Homo sapiens: one gene and its partners. The protein of the gene in region 1 purifies or fractionates together with the protein of each later gene. This does not show direct contact. Each region holds a gene or a part of one and is shown in the gene's direction. Other genes may lie near its edges.

Evidence for each region.
Region 2: the proteins of HDAC7 (region 1) and TTF2 purify together in Homo sapiens (affinity purification with mass spectrometry; 3 studies listed by BioGRID and IntAct, with this or other methods). This does not show direct contact.
Region 3: the proteins of HDAC7 (region 1) and DCAF10 purify together in Homo sapiens (affinity purification with mass spectrometry; 3 studies listed by BioGRID and IntAct, with this or other methods). This does not show direct contact.
Region 4: the proteins of HDAC7 (region 1) and MOCOS purify together in Homo sapiens (affinity purification with mass spectrometry; 3 studies listed by BioGRID and IntAct, with this or other methods). This does not show direct contact.
Region 5: the proteins of HDAC7 (region 1) and WDR73 purify together in Homo sapiens (affinity purification with mass spectrometry; 3 studies listed by BioGRID and IntAct, with this or other methods). This does not show direct contact.
Region 6: the proteins of HDAC7 (region 1) and FLYWCH2 purify together in Homo sapiens (affinity purification with mass spectrometry; 3 studies listed by BioGRID and IntAct, with this or other methods). This does not show direct contact.
Region 7: the proteins of HDAC7 (region 1) and ZMYM6 purify together in Homo sapiens (affinity purification with mass spectrometry; 3 studies listed by BioGRID and IntAct, with this or other methods). This does not show direct contact.

The regions. Positions count from the first base shown.
Region 1 is NC_000012.12:47,795,904-47,799,403, reverse strand, and holds part of HDAC7 (histone deacetylase 7), read left to right. Parts: intron 1-431; coding exon 432-619; intron 620-751; coding exon 752-842; intron 843-1,184; coding exon 1,185-1,296; intron 1,297-1,862; coding exon of another isoform or gene 1,863-1,904; coding exon 1,905-2,020; intron 2,021-2,261; coding exon 2,262-2,387; intron 2,388-3,105; coding exon 3,106-3,197; intron 3,198-3,387; coding exon 3,388-3,498; intron 3,499-3,500. UniProt on the Homo sapiens protein: Responsible for the deacetylation of lysine residues on the N-terminal part of the core histones (H2A, H2B, H3 and H4).
Region 2 is NC_000001.11:117,073,826-117,077,325, forward strand, and holds part of TTF2 (transcription termination factor 2), read left to right. Parts: intron 1-1,044; coding exon 1,045-2,034; intron 2,035-2,354; coding exon 2,355-2,469; intron 2,470-2,815; coding exon 2,816-2,998; intron 2,999-3,500. UniProt on the Homo sapiens protein: DsDNA-dependent ATPase which acts as a transcription termination factor by coupling ATP hydrolysis with removal of RNA polymerase II from the DNA template. May contribute to mitotic transcription repression. May also be involved in pre-mRNA splicing.
Region 3 is NC_000009.12:37,807,297-37,810,796, forward strand, and holds part of DCAF10 (DDB1- and CUL4-associated factor 10), read left to right. Parts: intron 1-3,500. UniProt on the Homo sapiens protein: May function as a substrate receptor for CUL4-DDB1 E3 ubiquitin-protein ligase complex.
Region 4 is NC_000018.10:36,190,497-36,193,996, forward strand, and holds part of MOCOS (molybdenum cofactor sulfurase), read left to right. Parts: intron 1-625; exon of another isoform or gene 626-707; intron 708-2,970; exon of another isoform or gene 2,971-3,500. UniProt on the Homo sapiens protein: Sulfurates the molybdenum cofactor. Sulfation of molybdenum is essential for xanthine dehydrogenase (XDH) and aldehyde oxidase (ADO) enzymes in which molybdenum cofactor is liganded by 1 oxygen and 1 sulfur atom in active form.
Region 5 is NC_000015.10:84,638,785-84,641,534, reverse strand, and holds the end of WDR73 (integrator complex assembly factor WDR73), read left to right. Parts: 3' UTR 1-2,250; downstream 2,251-2,750. UniProt on the Homo sapiens protein: Component of a multiprotein complex required for the assembly of the RNA endonuclease module of the integrator complex. Associates with INTS9 and INTS11 in the cytoplasm, stabilizing the INTS9-INTS11 heterodimer and blocking the active site of INTS11.
Region 6 is NC_000016.10:2,893,215-2,896,539, forward strand, and holds part of FLYWCH2 (FLYWCH family member 2), read left to right. Parts: intron 1-2,005; 5' UTR 2,006-2,106; intron 2,107-3,137; 5' UTR 3,138-3,235; coding exon 3,236-3,325.
Region 7 is NC_000001.11:35,018,446-35,021,945, reverse strand, and holds part of ZMYM6 (zinc finger MYM-type protein 6), read left to right. Parts: intron 1-1,478; coding exon 1,479-1,563; intron 1,564-2,343; coding exon 2,344-2,593; intron 2,594-3,500. UniProt on the Homo sapiens protein: Plays a role in the regulation of cell morphology and cytoskeletal organization.

The DNA.
Region 1 (3,500 bases):
CAACTCATTAGAGGGCAGCTGGGCAAATCCTCTGATTCCAGGGAGGGATGAAGGGAGGGAGAAGGCAGGGCCAAGAATGTCCTACCATAGGATCTGCAGCCCATCGGAGATCACTGTAGCCCTCAGCCCCCGGCCCAGGGAGGAGCATGTTTAGTGGAGGAGCACTGTGGTGGAGTCGGAAGACTCCGTTCAAACACCACCAGTGATACAGTGTTACTGTGCACAGTTCATGTGACTTTTTTCTCACGAGTAAAATGGAATTGATAATACCTACCTTGCAGGACCACGACAGGATTAAGTGAGGAAAAACCCCCATGAGAGTGTTTTGCCATTGTCAAGTGAGCCTGAGGGAGGCTGAGGGGGGATCAGGCTGTATCATGCCCCCGAGGACAAACTTTCCAGTTTACCCTGCTCCCTCTCTCTGTCCCTAGGCTGCCCCAGGCCCTGTGCAGACACACCAGGCCCTCAGCCGCAGCCCATGGACCTGCGGGTGGGCCAGCGGCCCCCAGTGGAGCCCCCACCAGAGCCCACATTGCTGGCCCTGCAGCGTCCCCAGCGCCTGCACCACCACCTCTTCCTAGCAGGCCTGCAGCAGCAGCGCTCGGTGGAGCCCATGAGGGTAAAGATGGAGCTCCCTGCATGTGGGGCCACCTTGAGCTTGGTCCCCAGCCTCCCCGCCTTCAGCATCCCTAGACACCAGTCTCAGTCCTCAACTCCTTGTCCCTTTCTGGGCTGCCGGCCCTGCCCACAGCTCTCCATGGACACGCCGATGCCCGAGTTGCAGGTGGGACCCCAGGAACAAGAGCTGCGGCAGCTTCTCCACAAGGACAAGAGCAAGCGAAGTAAGGAGGTGGCCACCCCAGCCCAGCCCAGCCCCACCAGCCAGGTGCCTGCGGCTGCCTGTGTGGCTTGTGAGGGGTGAGGTGGGAGGGCCGCAGCCAGCTGGGCCTGAGCCGAGGCTTTCCCTCTGCTTGCCTGGGCTCTGCCTGTGAATGTGTGGGGGATGTGGGGGTGGGGGGTGGTGTCTGGAGGCTCTAGGGAGGGGTAGGGCCTCGGGCTTGGCTCTTGCCTAGGGAGTCCCTGGGACGCCTCCTACTGAGGATGGGGACAGGGCAGTGGCCAGGTAGTGCCACGAGGCCGCCTGTCCACCCACCTCCAGCCCCCTCCTGACTCTGCCCCTACAGGTGCTGTAGCCAGCAGCGTGGTCAAGCAGAAGCTAGCGGAGGTGATTCTGAAAAAACAGCAGGCGGCCCTAGAAAGAACAGTCCATCCCAACAGCCCCGGCATTCCCTACAGGTAACACCCTCCTCACCTGCCCTCCTGTCCCCACATGCACCCTCCACCCCCGCCCCCGTGTTAGCCATGAGCACACACACTTGCCTCCTTCCTCCCCAGTTGCCACAACCAGTCCTTACCCTTCCTCTAAACATAATGCCCCCGAGCCCCTCTCTCAACTGATACCTGCCCTCCTCTCTTTAAATTCTCCCCACCCCACCTGAGCCCTTCTCACACACACACACACACACACACACACACACACACACACACCCTACTGGCTTTTTTCTTGCACATGAGCCCCTTCTCTCTTTATATTTTCCCTGAGCGCAAAAATGTCCTGGTTCCCAGAGCAGGTTCCTAGTGCAGGTGACAGAGCCCCCAGTGGGCTCTTCACCCACGCACCAAGCACCTGGCTTCTATGCCTAGGTCAGAGCTCTGCACTATAGCTGCTGGAGCGGACAGGCGGCCCACTGCTGCCACCTGGAGATGGTCCCCATTCCTACCAGCCCCACATTGCCCAGCCCTGCCCGCTGCAGCCTCCCCCTCAGGTCCCAGGGCCCGTGCTCAGGGCAGTGCCCGTGCAGTGTCCCCACACCTCTGAAGCAGCCTTGGCACTCGTTCTGTAGAACCCTGGAGCCCCTGGAGACGGAAGGAGCCACCCGCTCCATGCTCAGCAGCTTTTTGCCTCCTGTTCCCAGCCTGCCCAGTGACCCCCCAGAGCACTTCCCTCTGCGCAAGACAGGTGAGCTGAACAAACAGGCGGACCTTTCAGGCAAAGGAAGGGGGAAGGGCCTCGGACATGGGGGAGGAGTGTGCAGGGGTGGGCGGGCTGGGCTGGGCCAGGAGATCATCGGTAGGCTAGGATCTTCTTTCTAGTTCTGCCTTCTCTTTCCTTGACCGATAGAGATGACTGGGACTGAGGGGTTAAAGGGTGGAAAAAAGAAGGGTGGTGGGGGCCTGAGTGACGCTGGTGCTCCCTGCAGTCTCTGAGCCCAACCTGAAGCTGCGCTATAAGCCCAAGAAGTCCCTGGAGCGGAGGAAGAATCCACTGCTCCGAAAGGAGAGTGCGCCCCCCAGCCTCCGGCGGCGGCCCGCAGAGACCCTCGGAGGTGAGGGCCGGCTGAGCCAGTGCGGTTGCCATCCTCAAACCTGGCTGGTCTTGTCCCTTTGGGTCAGGCCCCACCTAGACAGGGGTCCCCTCCTTAGGACTGCCATGCGTGGTTGCATGGGGGTGTCCCACACACTTGCCGAAGCGGGGGAGTTGGGGCTGAAACCCAGTCCCTGCTCTGTTAGCTAAGGTGACATCTCCCAGAAAAGGGGGCACCCTTCAAAAAATTATGCAAAGGTGCTGTAGGCCAAAGGTGGCCTGTCTTCTTCCTGCTCTGATGGGAAGAAAGCAGGAGGCCGGGCGCGGTGGTTCACGCCTATAATCTCAGCACTTTGGGAGGCTGAGGCAGGTCAATCACCTGAGGTTAGGAGTTTGAGACCAGCCTGGACAATATGGTGAAACCCTGTCTCTACTAAAAATACAAAAATTAGCCAGGCACGGTGGTGCATGCCTGTAGTCCCAGCTACTTGGGAGGCTGAGCCAGGAGAATCGCTTGAACCCAGGAGGTGGAGGTTGCAGTGAGCCGGGATCGTGCCATTGCACTCCAGCCTGGGCAACAGAGCAAGACTCTGTCTCAAAAAAAAAAAAAAAGAAAGCAGGAAGCAAAGGTGCTCGTTAAGGAAGGGGGTGCTCCCGGGTCTCCTGCACCAGGCGGCCTGGCTGTACCCTCCTGCCCACCCTGGCCTCTGACTGCACTTCCCTCTCTCCCCAACCCTCAGACTCCTCCCCAAGTAGTAGCAGCACGCCCGCATCAGGGTGCAGCTCCCCCAATGACAGCGAGCACGGCCCCAATCCCATCCTGGGCTCGGAGGTAAGGCCTTGCCGAGACTGGGCTCTCCTGGGGCAGTTCTGAGGCTCAGCCTTCTTCCAGCAGGCGGCCCTACCTGGGCTGGGGCTGCAGGGTCTGGGCAGCCCCTGCCAGAGCCTCCTGGGTGTTCTGGGGAAGGTGCGCCGGGGTAGAGGTCTGGGACCGGTGACCCTCGCCCTGCTCCCTATGGCAGGCGCTCTTGGGCCAGCGGCTGCGGCTGCAGGAGACTTCTGTGGCCCCGTTCGCCTTGCCGACAGTGTCCTTGCTGCCCGCAATCACTCTGGGGCTGCCCGCCCCTGCCAGGGT
Region 2 (3,500 bases), on another chromosome or scaffold:
TTCATCAGACTGTCTCCGAAAGATAGTTTTCTTTAAGCAAGGTAGGCCCTGTTGGGACTTTTATTCAAAGGATCATTTAGTCGTAATCAAGATTAATTATTTGCATCCTATTTCACTTAGTAAATATTTTTTGAGGTCTTAAATGTAGTCAGTATTCTTTTACTCAAGGAAAAAAATAGATTTCCTTGACTAACTCTTGTATCTTTTTATAGAGGAATTTCTACTTGATACTGGTATAAGCTAAGTATAAGCATAAGCTCCTAGTATGTTAGAACTAGGAGGAGCATCTCCTAATAGGAGAAGCCCTACAGATATTCAGTACGTGAGGAACTAGAAGTAGGGAGGTGATAAGACTTGTTTTGGCAGAGGTGTGGCTTGAACTTACGATTCTAGATTACCACAGTAAAATCCTCCTAAAGCCAAAATCAAAGCAAGTGTTTTAAGACAATGTTTAGGTTTGGGGAAAAGTTCATCTTAAGAGAATAGTTTTTTTCCTGAAAAGTATACACTGTGGCCATTGTGATTGTAAAAGCACTTTGGTTTGTCACTACTTTTCCTTGAGGCCTGGAAAAGAGTGATCATGGACAGAGAAGGAACCAAGCTTCGAAAGTATCGTGAAGAAATGAGTCCTTTGTGGGTTTGGCACGTCATCTTTTCTAGACGTGGAAATGGTACCAAGAATGTTCAGGAAATATTGGACTGCTTTTACTGTGTTTCCATTTCTTCTGCAGAATAATCCTAAGTGAATTAATGCAGGAACAGAAAACCAAATATCATATGTTCTCACGAGCAGGAGCTAAACATTGAGCACCCATAAACATGGGAACAATAGATACTGTGAACTACTGGAGAGGGGAGGAGGGCATGGGTTAAGAAACTATCTATTGGGCACTATGCTCACTGCCTGAGTGCAATATACTCATATAACAAAGCTGCATATGTACCCCCTGTATATAAAATAAAAGTTGAGATGAAAAGGAAAGGCATTCTAGATACGAAGTTTGTATTAATATTTTATATGAAGATTAATTATTTTGTCTTTAGGATCCTGATTCCAAAGAACATTCTGTATCCAATAAGTCTCAGCATGCATCTGAGACATTTCATCATTCTTCCAACTGGCTGAGAAATCCATTCAAGGTACTTGACAAGAATCAAGAACCAGCTCTCTGGAAACAGCTCATCAAAGGTGAAGGTGAGGAAAAGAAGGCTGATAAGAAGCAAAGAGAAAAGGGAGATCAGCTTTTCGATCAAAAGAAAGAACAGAAGCCTGAAATGATGGAGAAAGACCTCTCATCTGGCCTGGTACCAAAGAAAAAACAATCTGTAGTTCAAGAGAAGAAGCAAGAAGAGGGAGCAGAGATTCAGTGTGAGGCAGAGACTGGAGGCACACACAAAAGAGACTTTTCTGAAATTAAATCTCAACAGTGCCAAGGTAATGAGCTTACAAGACCATCTGCATCTTCTCAGGAGAAATCAAGTGGTAAGAGTCAAGATGTCCAAAGAGAATCAGAACCTCTGAGAGAAAAGGTTACCCAGCTTTTGCCTCAAAATGTTCACAGTCACAACTCAATAAGCAAGCCCCAGAAAGGGGGACCCCTCAACAAGGAGTACACGAACTGGGAGGCTAAAGAAACAAAGGCAAAGGATGGCCCTAGCATACAGGCCACCCAGAAAAGCCTGCCTCAGGGGCATTTCCAAGAGCGGCCGGAGACCCACAGTGTGCCTGCTCCTGGAGGACCAGCGGCTCAGGCTGCACCAGCAGCACCAGGGCTTTCCCTGGGTGAGGGCCGTGAAGCTGCCACAAGCAGTGACGACGAGGAGGAAGATGATGTTGTTTTTGTTTCCTCTAAGCCTGGGAGCCCCCTACTCTTTGACTCGACTCTGGACTTAGAGACGAAGGAAAACCTCCAATTCCCTGATCGAAGTGTGCAAAGAAAGGTGTCTCCTGCCTCAGGTGTTTCCAAGAAGGTAGAACCCTCAGACCCAGTAGCCCGGCGTGTCTACCTTACAACACAACTGAAACAAAAGAAGGTAACTATTGACTCGTGTTTTGTTTCTGAGGTCAGAGCATTGCTTGTTATGGGCAGATATGAGATCTCATTGCTACAGAAGGGTTAAATATGTTCATGTGAAGGTTTTATAGGTGCATGTTCAGTTTCTGCCTTTTCCCCTATTTATATTTTCAAGATTGGTAAGCCAGCTGGGTTAAAATTTAAAAAAGGTTCTGGTTTTTGCACACATATTTAAAAGACCATAATTTCAGAGTTTGGGTGTTTCAGGCTATTTTAATCTGAAACTATTCATCTAACAGTGTGAGAGGAGAGATCCATTTGATGGAATCTGTTTTTCAGAGCACACTGGCATCAGTGAACATCCAGGCTCTTCCAGACAAGGGTCAGAAGTTGATCAAACAAATCCAGGAGCTGGAGGAAGTACTCAGTGGTCTTACCCTTTCCCCAGAGCAAGGTAAAGTGGCTTATGCCTCAGAACTCCGGGTTTGCATCGACTTTACAAGAGACATTCGGGAAGCCCTTTTAATAAAGAATGTGTTGATTCATTCACTTTTCCATTTTATTATCTGCTTCTGAGACTTCTTTCACATTACACCTATGGTTCATAAAAAACTTTCTCCTGTTTCCTGTGGACTCTACTTTCTTCCCCATTGTTTAAGCAACTGTTAAAATGCTACCTTCTCTAGGAATCCTTCATCGGAATGGTGATGATCCCTCTCTCTTGACCTCACCTCCACACATATGGTCCCTTCACTTAGTTTGCTGAACTTTAATCTGCTCTTCCCTTGTTTTCTGAGCAGGAACTAATGAGAAGAGTAACAGTCAAGTACCACAGCAGAGTCACTTCACCAAAACTACCACTGGCCCTCCCCACCTGGTGCCTCCCCAACCCCTTCCTCGTCGTGGTACCCAACCTGTGGGTTCTCTAGAACTAAAGTCTGCCTGCCAGGTGACTGCTGGAGGATCCAGTCAGTGCTATCGAGGTAAGACCCAAGGGCCTGACCCTGCTGTGAATAGCCACCCCTGTGAGTTACGTGCCACCCGGTACAGTAGTCACCTCTTATCCACACTTTCAGTTAACCTTAGTCACCTGTGGTTCAAAAAAAGGTGAGTACAGTACAGTAAGATATTTTGAGAGAGAAAGAGACAGAAACCACATTCACATAACTTTTATTACAGTATATTCTTATAATTCTTCTATTTTATTATTATTGTTAAATGCTTTCTGTCCCTAATGTATTAAAGTTTAAAATAGGTATGTACGTATGGGGAAAAAAAAAAGCCAAAACATAGTATGTGTAGGGTTCAGTACCATCCAGTTTCAAGCATCCACTGGGGGTCTTGCAACATACGCCCTGTGGATAAGGAGGGACTACCGTAGATGTCTTTGTGCCCACATGAGGGGAGAAGCCATTCTTAAGTCAGAAGTTGCCCATATAATAAAGATTGTGCAGCTCAGTAGAGCTTTGCATCGTGTTACTTAGC
Region 3 (3,500 bases), on another chromosome or scaffold:
TAGGGAGACCTTGTCTCTACAAAAAATTTTAAAAAGTGTGATTTTTTTTAACGTATCATGACTACAAGTTATTTAATGACTATAAATTTAATGTGGACATTCTTAGAAGGGCTTTATCTAGTTTCCTATGTCAATTCATGGTTCAGACAAGGGCATCTGTGTCAAATAAAAGATTATGGCTACAATTTCCAAAAATTAATAAATGATTGAAAATTACTAGAATGATTTAATGAACAATTTGAGCTACAATGGTTATCACCTGGTGAGCATTTTTATAATCTATATAGGTTAATTTATTTAGAAAATGTTTTTAAATTTTATTTATGTTAATTTATATTACCACTGAATTTTCTTTTCTTTTCTTTTTTTTTTTTTTTTTTTTTGAGACAGAGTTTCACTCTTGTTGTCCAGGCTGGACTGCAATGGCGCGATCTTGCCTGAATGCAACCTCCAGCTCCCAGGTTCAAGCAATTCTCCTGCCTCAGCCTCCCAAGTAGCCGGGATTACAGGCATGCACCACCACGCTCGGCTAATTTTGTATTTTTAGTAGAGATGAGGTTTCACCATGTTAGTCAGGCTGGTCTTGAACTCCTGACCTCAGGTGATCCACCCACCTCAGCCTCCCAAAGAGCTGGGATTATAAGTGTGAACCACTGTGCCTGGCCTGAATTTTTAACCTCTTTGAATATCACACTTAACTGTATGTAACAGCCGCTTCATCCTTATATTTTTCAAACACACAAGGAACAGTTATAAAATTTTCACATATGAGACCACAAGTTTCAAAAGATTGGTATCATACCGAATACAGTTTCTCACCACAATGTGATCACTAGAAGTAAATAAAAAGATAACTAGCTGGCATGGTGGTTCATACCTGTGATCCCAACACTTTGGGAGGCTGAGGCAGGTGGATCACTTGAGCCTGGGAGTTCCAGACCATCCTTACAAAAAATACAAAAATTAGCCAGTTGTGGGGCTCATGCCTATAGTCCTAGCTACTCAGGAGGCTGAGGTGGGAGGATCACTTGAACCCCGGAAGCAGAGGTTGCAGTGAGCCAAAATCGCGCCACTGCACTCCAGCCTGGGCGACAGCCTGGGCGACAGAATGAGACCCTGTCTCAAGAAAAATATATATATTATATTATGTAAAAGTATATTATATATAATATAAAATATATATTTATATAATATATAAATATATAAAACATATATTTATATAATATATTATATAAATATATAATATATGTAATATATAAAATATATAATACATAATATATAATATAAAATATATTTATATAATATAATATAAAAATATAATATATTTATATAATATAATATAAAAATATATAATATAAAATATAAATATATTATATAATATAAAATATAAATATATATTTATATATTTATATTTATATATAAAATTTATATATAAAAATATATAAAAATACATACATAAAATATATATTTATATAATATATATTATATATTTTATATTTTTGGAAGTCAAGAGACAAGTATAATTAAAAAGATAACCAGAGACCTGGCACAGTGGGTCACACTTGTAATCCCAGCACTTTGGAAAACTGAGGTGGGAGGATCTGGCAGGAGTTCAAGACCAGCCTGGGCAAGGAAGAAAGACTGTCTACAAAAATTTAAAAATTAGCCTGGTGTGGTGGCATGTGCCTGTGGTCCTAGCTACCCAGGAAGGTGAGGCAGGAGGACTGCTTGAGCTTCAGAGTTTGAGGTTGCCACTGCATTCTAGCCTGGGTGACAGAATGAGACTCTGTCTCAAAGAAAAAAAAAAAAAAAGATAACTAGAAAAGTCTCATTCATTTTCAAAAAGAATTGATAAATTCATGGGTCAAAGGGGAAATTATAATGGAAATTAGAAATGTTCAGAACTAAATGATAATGAAATCATATGTCTCAAAACTTGTGGGATACAAGTAAAGCTGTACTTAGTAGGAAAATTATAGTCTTTAATAAACTGATAAGGAAAATTAATGAGCTAAGTATTCATCTCATGAAAGAGAATAGCAAAGTTATCTGCAAATAATAGGAAAATCAATCTAAAGAGAGCAGAAGGAAATATAGTAAAAAAAAAAAAAAGGTAGAAATTAGTGAAATTTTAAAAACCATCAGAAATACTGAATAGGGACAAAGTTTTGTCTTTGAAAACACTTATAAAAATGAAAAACATCCATGGTACTAAGAAAATGCACAGATAATATTCAGAATAAAAAGAGGGACATAGGTCGGCACAGTGGCTCACACCTGTAATCCTAGCACTTTGGGAGGCCGAGGCGGGTGGATCACCTGAGGTCAGGAGTTCGAGACCAGCCTGGCTAACAGGCGAAGCCCTGACTCTACTCAAAATAAAAAAATTAGCCAGGCATGGTGGTGGGCGCCTATAATCCCGGCTACTCCGGAGGCTGAGGCAGGAGAATCGCTTGAACCCGAGGGGCGGAGGTTGCAGTGAGCCAAGACTGTGCCACTTCACTCCAGCCTGGGCAAAAGAGCGAAACTCTGTCTCAAATTAAAAAAATAAAAGGGTTAGGGGGAGCGGGGCGGCCGTGCGCGGTGGCTCACGCCTGTAATCCCAGCATTTTGGGAGGCCAAGGCGGCTGGATCACCTGAGGTCAGGAGTTTGAGACCAGCCTGGCTAACATGGTGAAACCCCATCTCTACTAAAAATACAAAAAAGTAGCTGGGCATGGTGGCAAACGCCTGTAATCCCAGCCACTCAGGAGGCTGAGACAGGAGAATCACTTGAACCTGGGAGGCGGAGGTTGCAGTGAGCTGAGATTGCGCCACTGCACTCCAGCCTGGGCAACGAGAGCGAAACTCCATCTTAAAAAAAAAAAAAAGTTGGGGGGACAATTTTATATGCAAGAGGTAGATTGTTTGGACCAAACTTCCAACTGAGAATAATCAGAAAAGCTAGAGAAAATATTAAATATTTAATGTAAGATATAGAAAGCTTATGTGTGAGGGGATTAGAGCATTATCAGGGAAATGAAGAAATTGCAGGGTCAAGTTCTAAAAAATAGGAAAGCCAGTGATGTGAGCCCAGCATTTGAGCTCGCTTCTCTGAGAGACATCTGTCAATCTCAAAAGCAGCAGCAGCAATGAGGCTGAATGGTATTTCTTTCTTTCTTTCTTTCTTTTTTTTTTTGAGACAGAGTTTCATTCACTGTTGTTGCCCAGGCTGGAGCGCAATGGCGCAATCTTGGCTCATTGCAACCTCTGCCTCCCGGGTTCAAGCGATTCTCCTGCCTCAGTCTCTGGATTAGCTAGGATTATAGGCGCCTGCCACCACGCCCGGCTAATTTTTGTATTTTTAGTAGAAACGGGCTTTCTCCATGTTGGTCAGGCTGGTCTCGACCTCCTGACCTCAGGTGATCTGTCTGCCTCGGCCTCCCAAAGTGCTGGGATTACAGGCTTGAGCCACTGCGCCTGGCCTCTGAATGGTATTTCTAATGGACTCATGGGTGGGA
Region 4 (3,500 bases), on another chromosome or scaffold:
CCTAGCACTTGGGAGGCTGAGGTGGGCAGATCACTTGAGCCCAGGAGTTCAAGACCAGCCTGGGCAACATGGTGAAACCCCGTCTCTACAAAATATACAAAAATTAGGCAGGCATGGTAGCTCATGCCTAAAGTCCCAGCTACTGTGGAGGCTGAGGTGGGAGAATTGCTTGAGCCTGGAAAGTCAGAGCTGCAGTGAGCTGAGATTGCACCACTTCACTCCAGTCTGGGCAACAGAGTGAGACCCTGTCTCAAAAAAAACAAAAAAACAAAACAAAACAAAAAAACTTTCTTTGGCCAGGTGCAGTGGCTCATACCTGTAATCCCAGCACTTTGGGAGGCCAGCCTGGCCAACATGGCAAAACCCAGTCTCTACTAAAAATATAAAAAAATTAGCCCGGTGTGGTGGCACATGCCTGTAATCCCAGCTATTTGGGAGGCTGAACCTGGGAGGTGGAGGTTGCAGTGAGCCAAGATTGAGCCCCTGCACTCTAGCCTGGGTGGCAGAGCAAGACCCTATCTCTCAAAAAAAAAAAGAAAAAGAAAAAAAAGTGTGTAGCACCTGCCCCTTCACAAGCACCTTCTCTCTCTCTGTCTCTCTCTGTCTCTCCTGTCACCATATGAAGATGTGCTTGCTTCGCTTTCCACCAAGATTGTAAAGTTTCCTGAGGCCTCCCCAGCCATGACTCCTATACAGCCTGTGCAACTGTGAGTCAATTAAACCTCTTTTCTTTATAAACTACCCAGTCTCAGGTAGTTCTTTATAGCAATGTGAGAATGGACTGATACAACATTTAGTGGTATCAGATTCAAAAGTTGCCAAAGGAGGGTGAAGAATCACCAGGGAGCCTCCCTCTCACGCCAGCTGCAGCCACTGTGTCTACCTCAGAGTCAATTGCTGTCACTCATGTCTTGTGTATCTTTCCAGTGGTTGTCCATATTTATGTGTGCATGTGCACACTTTTTGAGACGGGGACTTGCTCTGTCACCCAGGCTGGAATGCAGTGGCATGATCATAGCTCACTGCCGCCTTGACCTCTTGGGCTTAAGCTATCCTCTTGCCTCAGCCTCCCAAGTAGCTGGGACTACAGGTGTGCACCACCATGCCTGGCTATTTATTTCTATAGAGATGGGGTCTCACATGTTGCTTATGCTGGTCTCAAATTCCTGGCCTCAAGCAATCCTGCCTTGGCCTCCCAAAATCCTGGGATTATAGATATGAGTCACTGTGTCCAGTACACTTAAAATACGTGTGCACACACACACACACACACATGTGAGCCATATGTCTCACCACTTGACATAGTTTGTGTTTAAGGTCTTTCTCTGCCATTATCATGCTATCTTCTATTTTGTTCATTGCTGTGTCTCCAGCACTTAGAACAATGCCTGACACATAGTAGGTGCTCAATAAATATTTCTTGAATGCAAATACACTCAATAAACTAGGAATGAAGGAAAAGTTAACCAACTGATAAAGGTCATCTGCAAAACCCCCCACAGCTAACATCATACTTAGTGGTGAAAGACTGAAAACTTTCATCCTGAGTTTGAAACAAGACAAAAGTGCCTGTTCTCACCATTTCTATTCAACATTGTACTGAAGGCTCTAGCCAGGGCAATTAGGCAAGAAAACAAAATAGAAGGGATCCAGATTGGAAAGAAGTAAAACTATCTCTACTTGCCAATAATGTAATTTTGTGTATAAAAAATTTCAAGGAATCCACACACAAAACTATTGGAATTTAAAAACAAATTTAGCCAAGTGGTAGGATACAAGATCAATATGCAAACATCAGTTCAATTTCTATACATTGGCAATAGATACTATGAAAATGAAATTAGAAAAACAATTCCGAAGGCATCAAAAATAATAAAATACACAGAAAAAAATTTATCAAAAGAAGTATCACATACACTGAAAATTGTAAAACATCATTGAAAGAAATTAAAGAAGACCTAAATAAATGGAAAGATATCCTGTACTGATGGGTTGGAAGACTTAATATTGTTAACATGGCAATAATCCCCAAATTAATATACAGATTCAATGAAATGCCTATCAAAATCCCAGCTGCCTTTTTGCAGAAGTTGACAAGCTGATTCTAAAATTTATATAGAAATGCAAGTGACTCAGAATAGCCAAAGCAATCGTTTTATTTTATTTTTTGAGTCAGAGTCTCACTCTGTCACAAAGACTGGAGTACAGTGGTGCAATCTCAGCTCACTGCAATCTCCACCTCCCAGGCTCAAGTGATTATCCTGCCTCAGCCTCCCAAGTAGCTGGGATTACAGGCGCACGCCATTACCGCCTGGCTAATTTTTGTATTTGTAGTAGAGATGGGGTTTCACCATGTTGGCCAGGCTGGTCTTGAACTCCTGACCTCAGATGATCCACTCACCTCAGCTTCCCCAAGTGCTGAGATTACAGTGTGTGCCACCACACCTGACCTCAAAGCAATCTTGAAAAAGAAGATCAAAGTTAGAGGAATCACACTTTGCAGTTTCAAAACTTACTACAAAGTTACAGAATGGGCCGGGCGCGGTGGCTCACGCCTGTAATCCCAGCACTTTGGGAGGCTGAGGCGGGTGGATCATGAGGTCAGGAGATCGAGACCATCCTGGCTAACAAGGCGAAACCCCGTCTCTACTAAAAATACAAAAAATTAGCCGGGCGCGGTGGCGGGCGCCTGTAGTCCCAGCTACTCGGGAGGCTGAGGCAGGAGAATGGTGTGAACCCGGGAAGCGGAGCTTGCAGTGAGCCGAGATTGCGCCACTGCAGTCCGCAGTCCGGCCTGGGCGACAGAGCGAGACTCCGTCTCAAAAAAAAAAAAAAAAAAAAAAAAAAAAAAAAAAAAAAGTTACAGAATGAGGACAGTGTGATATTGGCATAAGTATACACATATAGACAAATGAAATATAATTTTAATTTAATAAACCCATATGTCTATGGTCAATTGATTTTCAACAGATACCAAGACTATTCAACGAGGGAAATAACTTCTTCAATAAGTGATATTGGGACAACTGGATATCAACATGCAAAAGAACGAACTTGGACCCCTACCTCATTCTGCATTCAAAAATTAACTCAATGGATCAAATACCTAAATATGAAACAGCTAAAAGTATAATATTCTTAGAGTAATATATAAGCATAAATCACTAGGACCTTGTTGAATTAGACAATAATTTCTTATGACACCAAAAATGCAACAACATAAATAGACAAATTGGATTTTATCAAACTTAAAAAGAACTTGTATGTTTCAATGAACACCATCAAGAAAGTGAAAGGACAACCCACCAAATGAGAGAAAACACATCCACACAAAAACTTGTACACCAGTATTCATACCAGCAATCATTTATAATACACAAAAGTGGAAACAATCCAAATATTCCTCAGTAGATGAATGGATAAAATGTGGTATATTCATACAATGGAATACTATTCTGCCATAACAGGAATGAAGTTCTGATACATGCTAAAATGTGGAC
Region 5 (2,750 bases), on another chromosome or scaffold:
CTCAAAAAAAATAAAATAAAGATAAAATCATAAACACTCATAATTCAGTTATACCTTTTTTCAAGTAACTAAAGTTCAAACTTACTTAGGGGAACAGGCTTTCCTGGGTGCCACCTGCTTCTCAAGTCCTGTGCTTTCCACACCACAGAATAGTAAACTGGGTGCACTGAGTGCCTGGTTCCCCTCAGCCCTTAACCAGTGCTGGCTTGTCCGAGTTTAGAATCCCAGGGCTGACTTTGTTGGTGGAATGCTAGCTCCCATTCATTTCCCACCTGCACTGGACGTTTTCTGAATCTCCTTGAAGTCCGGGAGATCTTCATTCCAAAGCTCTTCACTTTTCTGCAGCATTGTGACCCCATCTGGCTGGGGAACTGGAAGTCCTGCTCAGAGAAAAGCAGGAGGGGACATGGAGTTCTGAAATTCACTTTCTGCTCCCATGTCTGGAAGTGACAGGTGAAATGAGAATGATAGTGCCTCTCAAGAAGGTCTAGTTCCCAGAAGAGAAAGTTTAATGACTCATTTTCCCCCTTTTACTCCTTTGAGGGTACAGGATAATGCCCTTATCTATTTTCATAATAATTATAATGATGATGATAATGAAAACTAACGTTTGCCAAGTGCTAATACTGTGTCAGGATCCTCATAACAGCCCAGGGAGGTAGAAACCATCACAATGTCCACTGTCCAGATGAGAAAATGGAGGCTAAGGGTATTTAAAGAGGTTGCCCAAGAACAACAAACCTTTTAAATGGCAGACTGGTGTGTATAATCTACGCAGGGTTCACATCTATGGAACACTTTATTTTAAATTCTTTTAATAATATTATTATTTTTCAGCTGAGTCTGGGTCTCACTCTGTCGCCCAGGCTGGAATGCAGTGGCATGATCACAGCTCACTGCGGCCTCCAACTCCTGGGCTCAAGTGATTCTCCTGCCCCAGCCTCCCGAGTAGCTGGGACTACAGGCTTGCGCCACCATGCCCGGCTTATAGGGCACTTTAGATGGAAACAAATGACTGGATCTTTAACTCCTACCTTTCTCTCCTCTCTTCCTGTAATGTTGTTACTGAAGGCAGGAAGGGAGACTCCTTGGCTAAAGAGCAGAGCAAGAGCCTCAAAGTGGTCTTTGTGAGCCACCCTGGACTACTGGTTCAGTAGAGGGTTGAGTCAAGCAATATTTGAGGACGGGATATAAACAGTATTTCTTAAAGTTGTCACCAATTTTTCCCCCGATGAGGCCATTCCAGACCCAAATTAGTCATAACAGAGCCAGGACAATAATCACATCTCCTGATTCTGAGCCTGAATGCTTCCCACAGGACTGCGTCGCTCCCACTGCTCTGAGGTCCATTGTGGGGGAGAGTTGCCACTGGGATTCCACCTCAAGGCCTGGGGACCAAGCCTCCAGGATTCCTCTTGAGACTCCTCCACTATTTCATTACCATCCCGCCACATCTTCTAGTGCTATGCCCTGGTTCCCTTTGGAATCCTCTCAATCCCAAAGAAGGCCTCCTACCACCTCTAAGGCATCAAAGGTGTTAGAAAGTGCCCCAAGACTCAACAGGGCATCCATCTCATCATAGAAGACACTGGTGCCTGGTGTGTAGGTGCTCCTGGCTTTGCAGTAGTCGGTCAGGAGGTTTTTGAACCGATAGCAACATTGCTCCAGGGTCCACAGGAAGCCATGTTCTCACAGCTGCTCAGCCATAATCCGGTACACCTGGTGGTTTCGATGGCAGGTGCGGAGTTTTTCGTGGATCCAGGCCTCTGAGAATTCCCAGAAAAATCTTGGTTTCTTTGTATCCCCAGTGCACTCCTGCCACCTTCTCATCCTCCAGGGCCTGCCACTCCAGCTCGCTCCAGGTCTTGGCTTTTCTCCAGATTAGCACCTGGCCAGACTTGACTCTCACCCCAGCCACTGAGCAGTCTTTCACACTCTCTTTTTCTCCAGAATTTGAAGATCTAGATGCTGTGGGTTTTCATCCTACTCCACGTGGGAGTTCACTTTGGGCCTATGGATTGGAAAATCTGTTTGCAGGCAGACAAAAGGGAGATGTAATGGTTTGGTAAATCTAATCCCAACCATTTTATATGCCAGGGAGAGGAGATAGTAATTTTTTTTTTTTAATTCTGGGGGGATTCTTGGGAAAGCTCAGTGAAAAGAACAACTAGAAAAAAAAATTCAGGCCCAAATGCATAACTATATATCCACGTTCATCTATCTTAAATAAAATTCAGACACATACCTAAACTGACCATCTCCCTAAAATGAGCTTTCCTTTCTGGGTCAAGAAATTCATCCTTGGTGAAACTGACTATGGTATTGGATTTCCTTTGAGTAAGATTTAAGGAAGAAATAGATTTGAAATATTCAACCCAGGGGGAAAGGGTGGGAGCAGGGGGGTGAGGGATAAAAGACTACACACTGGGTACAGACTGAGGGGATAAAAGACTGCACACTGGGGCCCCGTGGTGGCTCAGGCCTGTAATCCCAGCACTTTGGGAGGCCGAGGCAGGCAGATTACTTAAGGTCAGGAGTTCAAGACCAGCCTGGCCAACATGGTGAAACCCCATCTCTGCCAAAAAAAAAAAAAAAAAATACAAAAATTAGCTGGGCGTGGTGGCACATCTCTGTAATCCCAGCGACTCAGGAGGCTGAGGCAGGAGAATCACTTGAACCCGGGAGGCAGATGTTGCAGTGAGTCAAGATCATACCACTCCACTCCAGCCTGGGTGATAGAATGAGACTCA
Region 6 (3,325 bases), on another chromosome or scaffold:
TCAACTTAACCTTCAGGCCCTCTCCCTTTCCTGGAGTTTGGAGGAGGGGCTGAAAGTCCCAACCCTCTAACCCTGCCTTGGTCTTTCTGGTGACCAGCCCCATTGAAGCAGCCCAGGGGCTGCCAGCCATCAGTCAGTGCCTAAGCATACAAAAAGACATCATTTTGGAGATTCCAGGAATTTTAGGAATTATGTACTGGGAGAGAGGGTCAAACACCAAATATATATTTCACAATATGAAAGAGCCCAATTTACGTATTTCACGATTCCCTTCTTGTTACAGCTTAACGAGATTTTTTTATTTTCCTGACTTTTCGCTTTGGAGAATTAGTCAATAGTTTAGGTCTGTCTTGTTCGTTTAATATGGGGTTTGAATTTGAGATGGGGCTGACGTCACTTTGGGGCCCTTTTCTTTTCTTCTTTTTTTTTTTTTTTTTTTTTGAAACGGATTCTCGCTCTGTCGCCCAGGCTGGAGTGCAGTGGCACGATCTCGGCTCACTGCAAGCTCCGCCTCCCAGGTTCACGCCATTCTCCTGCCTCAGCCTCCCGAGTAGCTGGGATTACGGGCGCCCGCCACCACGCCGGGCTAATTTTTTGTATTTTTTAGTGGAGACGGGGTTTCAACATGTTAGCCAGGATGGTCTCGATCTCCTGACCTTGTGATCCGCCCGCCTCGGCCTCCCAAAGTGCTGGGATTACAAGCGTGAGCCACCGCGCCCGGCCCCTTTGGGGCCCTTTTGTACAGCTCAGAGTTGGCCTGGCTGCAGGGCTGGGACTATGGAATGGCAAGGAGGTGCCTCAGGTGCCAAATATTAGGTTGGTGAAAATTAATTGCGGTTTTGTCATTGAAAGCAATGGCAAAACCGCAATTACTTTTGCACTAACCTAATATAAGGAGGCGTGCAGTCTGGGGGTCAGAGTGAGTGTGGAGGTCTCGGAGAATGGCTGCTGGCCTGGAGGAGGCTGCTAGGTCTGGGTCCCTGCCAGCCTTGTGGGGACCAACTGCTGTATCTTGCAGGAATTTGCACGCTGGGTATGCAAGAGGCTTCATCTTTTTTGGAGTCTGGGAGCGCTGCAGTGGCAGAACCGACACGGCGGGAGGCGCTAGAGGACCCGGGGTGGACTCGGACGTGGGGTCAGGGAACCTGGCATTTATTCCTGCCCGGACTGCCCACTCATGCTGCGGAGTGTGGGAGGCGTGGGGAGATCGGCCGCCAGAGGGACGTGCGCCGTAGCCAATCAGCGTGTGAAGCAGGGCGCTATGTGGTTGGGGCCTCCCGTAACTCTTTACGGCCCCAGAGTGGCCCCCAGGTCCCCGGCATCCCCACATCGCCCTGTGAGGCAGATGAGCAGAGCCGGAAGGGCCGCACGGGAGGAACAGGGGTTGGCTTGTCCGGAGGCGGACGGATAACGCGACCCCGATCCCTGCGGTACTCTGCAGTCATGTGACTCGCCGCCTGGCGCATTTCTTCAAGTGCCCACCCCCTCGAGAAGGTGCCCCTGGGGTGGGGGCTTCACATCTGCTTTTGTTTAGTGGTCAGAGGACTACAGAGGGAAGCTCTCAGGACAAGGCCCCCAACCCTGTACTCCAGTCCTGCATCCTTAGGCCCCTCTCATGGACAATAGGGTCTTAGAAAAAGCGCCAGGGTGCTGGGCATGGACCCCTCAGGACAGACGCATTGGGAGGGGTCCAAGGAAACCATGAGAACCTCAAGCCCAGGTTGGGGAATCGGCCCGAGGGGAAAGTGGGTGTCTCTGGGCCTTGTCCTGCCTGGGTCCTGGACAGGGGGCTAGGTGGCTGCCCAAGCTGCAGTCTTGTGTCTAGGCTAAAACTGTAAGCTGGGAAAGACCCCATGGTCTGCCCACCACCCAGTTGACCCCCAAAAGACAGAAAGGCCACCCCACACTGGCCTGGAGCCCCAGTCCTGAGGTGCTGCAGCACCAGTGTGGGGTGGCCCGGCACTTGCCCCTACAGGGTTACAACCCATCCTTTCTGCTTCTCCAGGCCAGAAGCCAAGGAGTCCTCAGTGACGGTGGGATCCACAACATCTCCACATCGCTGTCCCCACCCAGCCAGGGCAGCGCCAGCACTAGCTCAGACGCAAGGTTGGTGTGAGAACCAGTGGGTGTGGCCAGGCGCGGTGGCTCACGCTTGTAATCCCAGCACTTTGGGAGGCTGAGGCGGGCAGATCACGAGGTCAGGAGATCGAGACCACGGTGAAACCCCGTCTCTACTAAAAATACAAAAAATTAGCCGGGCGTGGTGGCGGGCGCCTGTAGTCCCAGCTACTCGGAGAGGTTGAGGCAGGAGAATGGCATGAACCCGGGAGGCGGAGCTTGCAGTGAGCCAAGATCGTGCCACTGCACTCCAGCCTGGGCGACAGAGCGAGACTCCGTCTCCAAAACAAACAAACAAAAAGAACCAACGAGCAGAGGAGCATGTGGGCCTTCAGACGGGGATGTGGCTGGATCTGGTTGTCCCACCTGCCAGGGCCAGCTGCAGTGCTATGGTCTGCAAAGTGCTGGCAGGTGCCTGGCCCATGCTCCCTGTGACAACACAAACTGAGCTAATGTCCCCAGAGTGTTTAGCTCTGATGCTTGGTGCCCAGGGACACTGATGTCTGTTAACATGGACAAAGTACACCAGATGCTGTGTGGTCATGGGCTCTGTGTCCACTCCATCTCTGCCACTCTGTGGCCGTGTGGATCACCCTGGCATGTCTCAGTGTCCTCAACTGTGACTGGGTCCATAAGAACAGCCTGCTGTCATAACAGGGGTGGGAGGTGGGACTGGAAACAGTCCTCAGGGTGGAAACCCTTCGTCCGTGCTCAGCATGTGGGAGGCCCATTGGTAGTGGCTGAGTTCTTAGTCCATTAGTCATTCTGATGGCCCCTTGTGGAGGGTGTTTACTGTGCACCTTTTCCAGATGGGGAAAGTGGGGTTGGATGGGGCTGACGTTCCCAAGGCTGCCAGGAGAGGAACTGGCAGAGCAGAAGCCTAGTTCCATCAGGCCCCCTGTCAGTCTTGGCCCCAGCGAGCAGTGAGGCAGCCCCATCTGCCCCACCTCCCTCCCAGATCCACGTCTAGAGCCTCCCAAGGGCTTCCACCACTGACGGGATTTTGCTTCCTTCCTTAGGACGGAACCGCTGGACTCCAGGTTCCTTGCCTGGGAGTAGGAGAAATCCACCTGCTGGGGGCTGAGTGTGGCCTGAGGGACAGGCCCTGGGTCCCGGGATGCCCCTGCCCGAGCCCAGCGAGCAGGAGGGTGAGAGTGTGAAGGCCAGCCAGGAGCCATCCCCCAAGCCAGGCACAGAAGTCATCCCG
Region 7 (3,500 bases), on another chromosome or scaffold:
TTTTAAAAAACTTCCTGTTTTGAAATATGTAAGGGTATTTTAACATTAAAAAAAAGGATGGTTGCAATTTCAGAATAAAGATAGGCATTTACATTTTAAAAATGTTTCATGATTACATTTTGTTTTAAAACGTTTTAAAGAATGTGGTAAGAATAAATAGGATTTTGTCTGTGATGATTTTATGTATAATGAGCAGATTGCATTGACACTCTTGTATCTTTTCTGCCATTAACAGAAAAGGCAGCTTGTAAATCTAAAATGATTGAAATCCAAACTCTAAATCATTCAGATTTAACTTTTCTTTTTTTCTTTTTCTTTTTTTTTTTGAGGCAGAGGCTCGCTCTGTTGCCCAGGCTGGAGTGCAGTGGCACAATCTTGGCTTACTGCAGCCTCCTCCTCCCGGGTTCAAGTGATTCTCCTGCCTCAGCCTCCTGGGTAGCTGGGACTATAGGTGTGAGCCACCACGCCCAGCCAGATTTAATTTCATTTATTGCTCCTTTTTGCCGGGTGCAGTGGCTCACACCTGTAATCCCAGCACTTTGGGAGGCCAAAGTGGGCGGATCACCTGAGGTCAGGAGTTCCAGACCAGCCTGGCTAACATAGCAAAACCCCTTCTCTACTGGAAAAAAACACAAAAATTCGCCGGGTGTGGTAGCGCAAGCCTGTATTCCCAGCTACTTGGGAGGCTGAGGCAGGAGAATCGCTTGAACCTGGGTGTTGGAGGTTGCAGTAAGCCAAGATCACGCCATTGCACTCCAGCCTGGGTGACAGAATGAAACTCCAGCCTGGGTGACAGAATGAGACTCCATGTCAAAAAAAAAAAAAAATTTTTTTTTTCATTTATTACCCCCTTTTAAACACACTACCTAAAAAATAGGTAGTGCTCAGCATTTGGAATAGCTATGTATTACTCCCATATATCAAAATTTCATTTGAAAAGTAGATAAAAGTATTTTAAAAGATTCTCTAATTCTGAAAGATTGTCTTTGTAAAGATTAGTGTAATAACTTGTAAATTTTGACTTTTGAGGTGCTTGTGAAGGTATTTATGATTAGACTGTTTAAGAGATGAATAGGGCCGGGTGTGGTGGCTCACGCCTGTAATCCCAGCACTTTGGGAGGCTGAGGTGGGTAGATCACAAGGTCAGGAGTTCGAGACCAGCCTGGCCAATGTGGTGAAACCCTGTCTCTACTAAAAATACAAAAAATAGTTGGGTGTGGTAGCACATACCTGTAGTCCCAGCTACTCGGGTGGCTGAGGCAGAAGAATCGCTTGAACCTGGGAGGCAGAGGTTGCAACGAGCTGAGATCGCGCCACTGCACTTCAGCCTGGGCACCCAAGTGAGACTCCATCTCAAAAAAAAAAAAAAAAAAAAAAGGAGATGAATAGGATAGAATAATTTTTTTTTGCTTGAATTTCTAGTTTACTTACATACATTGTATTCATTGCTCTTTTCTCTTTTCTTTTTTTTTTTAAAGGAGTATGGATGTGTCCAACAGCCAAAAACTCAAGAAAGTAAATTGAAAATTGGTGGTGTGTCTTCAGTTAATGAGAGACCTATTGGTAAGAAATGGAACTGTATAAGTTAGTTACAATTAATTTGCTTATTCTGACTTTTAAAATTGAGGGAAAGCATCTTTTCATGTATGTCTTTCTCTTTCTTTAGAGCTGTGTTTTTTCAAACTGTGAGTAGCTGGTTTTCAGCAGCGTTTTAAAAAATAGAGTAAGATTATATCAGAATATGATATGTGTAGTAAGGAAACATATTGTTTCATAAAACTTCTGTTTCAGTGATTAAATTGTACATACATCCCCACGTTTACAAACATATGTATGTGAGAACTGGGTTATAATATTAAATGTATTTCTTGCGTTGAGTAATGGTTAAAAAAAAATTGAAACCTCTGTTTTAGAGCTCTTATTGCCTCATTAACTGGATTTCAAGATTGGGAATTTGTCCTGAAAAAGAGAGACTGGGCTGGGTTTAGTGGCTAACACCTGTAATCTCAGCAACTTGGGAGGCTGAGGCAGGAGGATCGCTTGAGCTCAGGTGTTTGAGACCAGTCTGGGCAACATACCTTATCTTTGCTAAAAATTAAAAAAAAATTAGCTGGGTGTGGTGGCATGTGCCTGTAGTCCTAGCTACTCAAGAGGCTGAGGCGGGAGGACTGGTTAATCCTGGGAGTTTGAGGCTTCAGTGAGCCTTGATTGCACCACTGCACTCCAGCCTGGGTGACAGTGAGACCGTGTCTCAGAAAAAGAAAAAAGAGAGAGAGAGAGAGAGACTGAGACTGTATATGCATTAGTATTGATACTAAAACTTTTTTTATTTTGTTTTGATAGCCCAGCAGTTGAACCCAGGCTTTCAGCTTTCTTTTGCATCATCTGGCCCAAGTGTGTTGCTTCCTTCAGTTCCAGCTGTTGCTATTAAGGTTTTTTGTTCTGGTTGTAAAAAAATGCTTTATAAGGGCCAAACTGCATATCATAAGACAGGATCTACTCAGCTCTTCTGCTCCACACGATGCATCACCAGACATTCTTCACCTGCCTGCCTGCCACCTCCTCCCAAGAAAACCTGCACAAACTGCTCGAAGTATAAAATTCTTAACATCCCTTTTTACTTTACCTTTTTTTTAGTGTGTATATTGTTTAGTTCAAACATACTGTTGATACTTTAAATCTCTTCAGCATGTATCTGTAGAAATAACTTTTTAGTTAATGGAAGAATTCACCAATTTTAAAGTTTTGCAACATTAAATAAGTGACTTGGTGTTAGAATATTGCCTAAACCAGTTTTCTATCACTTTAAATTTTACTATGGAAAGAAATAACAAATGACATGTGGGAATTGCAGGACTATCCTGTAATTGTAGACACCCACCATTTAAATTTATTTAACAGTTATCTTGAAAGCTATTGGGTATAGCATAAAATAATATCACTCTTTTAATAGTATACAAAAGCTATTTAATTCTTTAAAAAGTAAAAACTCTACATGGTCGCAAAAATGTGTTTATTTCTAATGTCCTTGTGGGGTCATTGTTGCTTTACAATAATGCTTAGATGCAGAGAGAGGAAAAAACAGCAACAAAGTCACATAAATCTTTCCCTGACTTAGTACATTTGAAGGATTTGGCATATTTTGCCTATTTCTGTGGTAGTGTAATTTGAGGAATACAGTGTGTTGTTAATAGTCACTACAGGCAAAAAACAGTAAGAGCTTGCTTTTAAATTGTGGCTCTGTCATTTATCTCTGTGACTTCGGGCTAGATGTTTAACTTTCTAAGCCTCCATTTCTCATCAGTAAATAATAGTTGCTTCCTAGGACTTTAATGAGACAGTGTTAGCAAATGGCCTAGCACATAGCAAGTACTTAAAAAATGGAATCCTGTTATTATTAATAATAAAAATTATATCGTGCGATTATTTATAATTAACATAAATAAATATAATAAATATATGTGTATATAATACATATTACTATGTATACTTAACATATC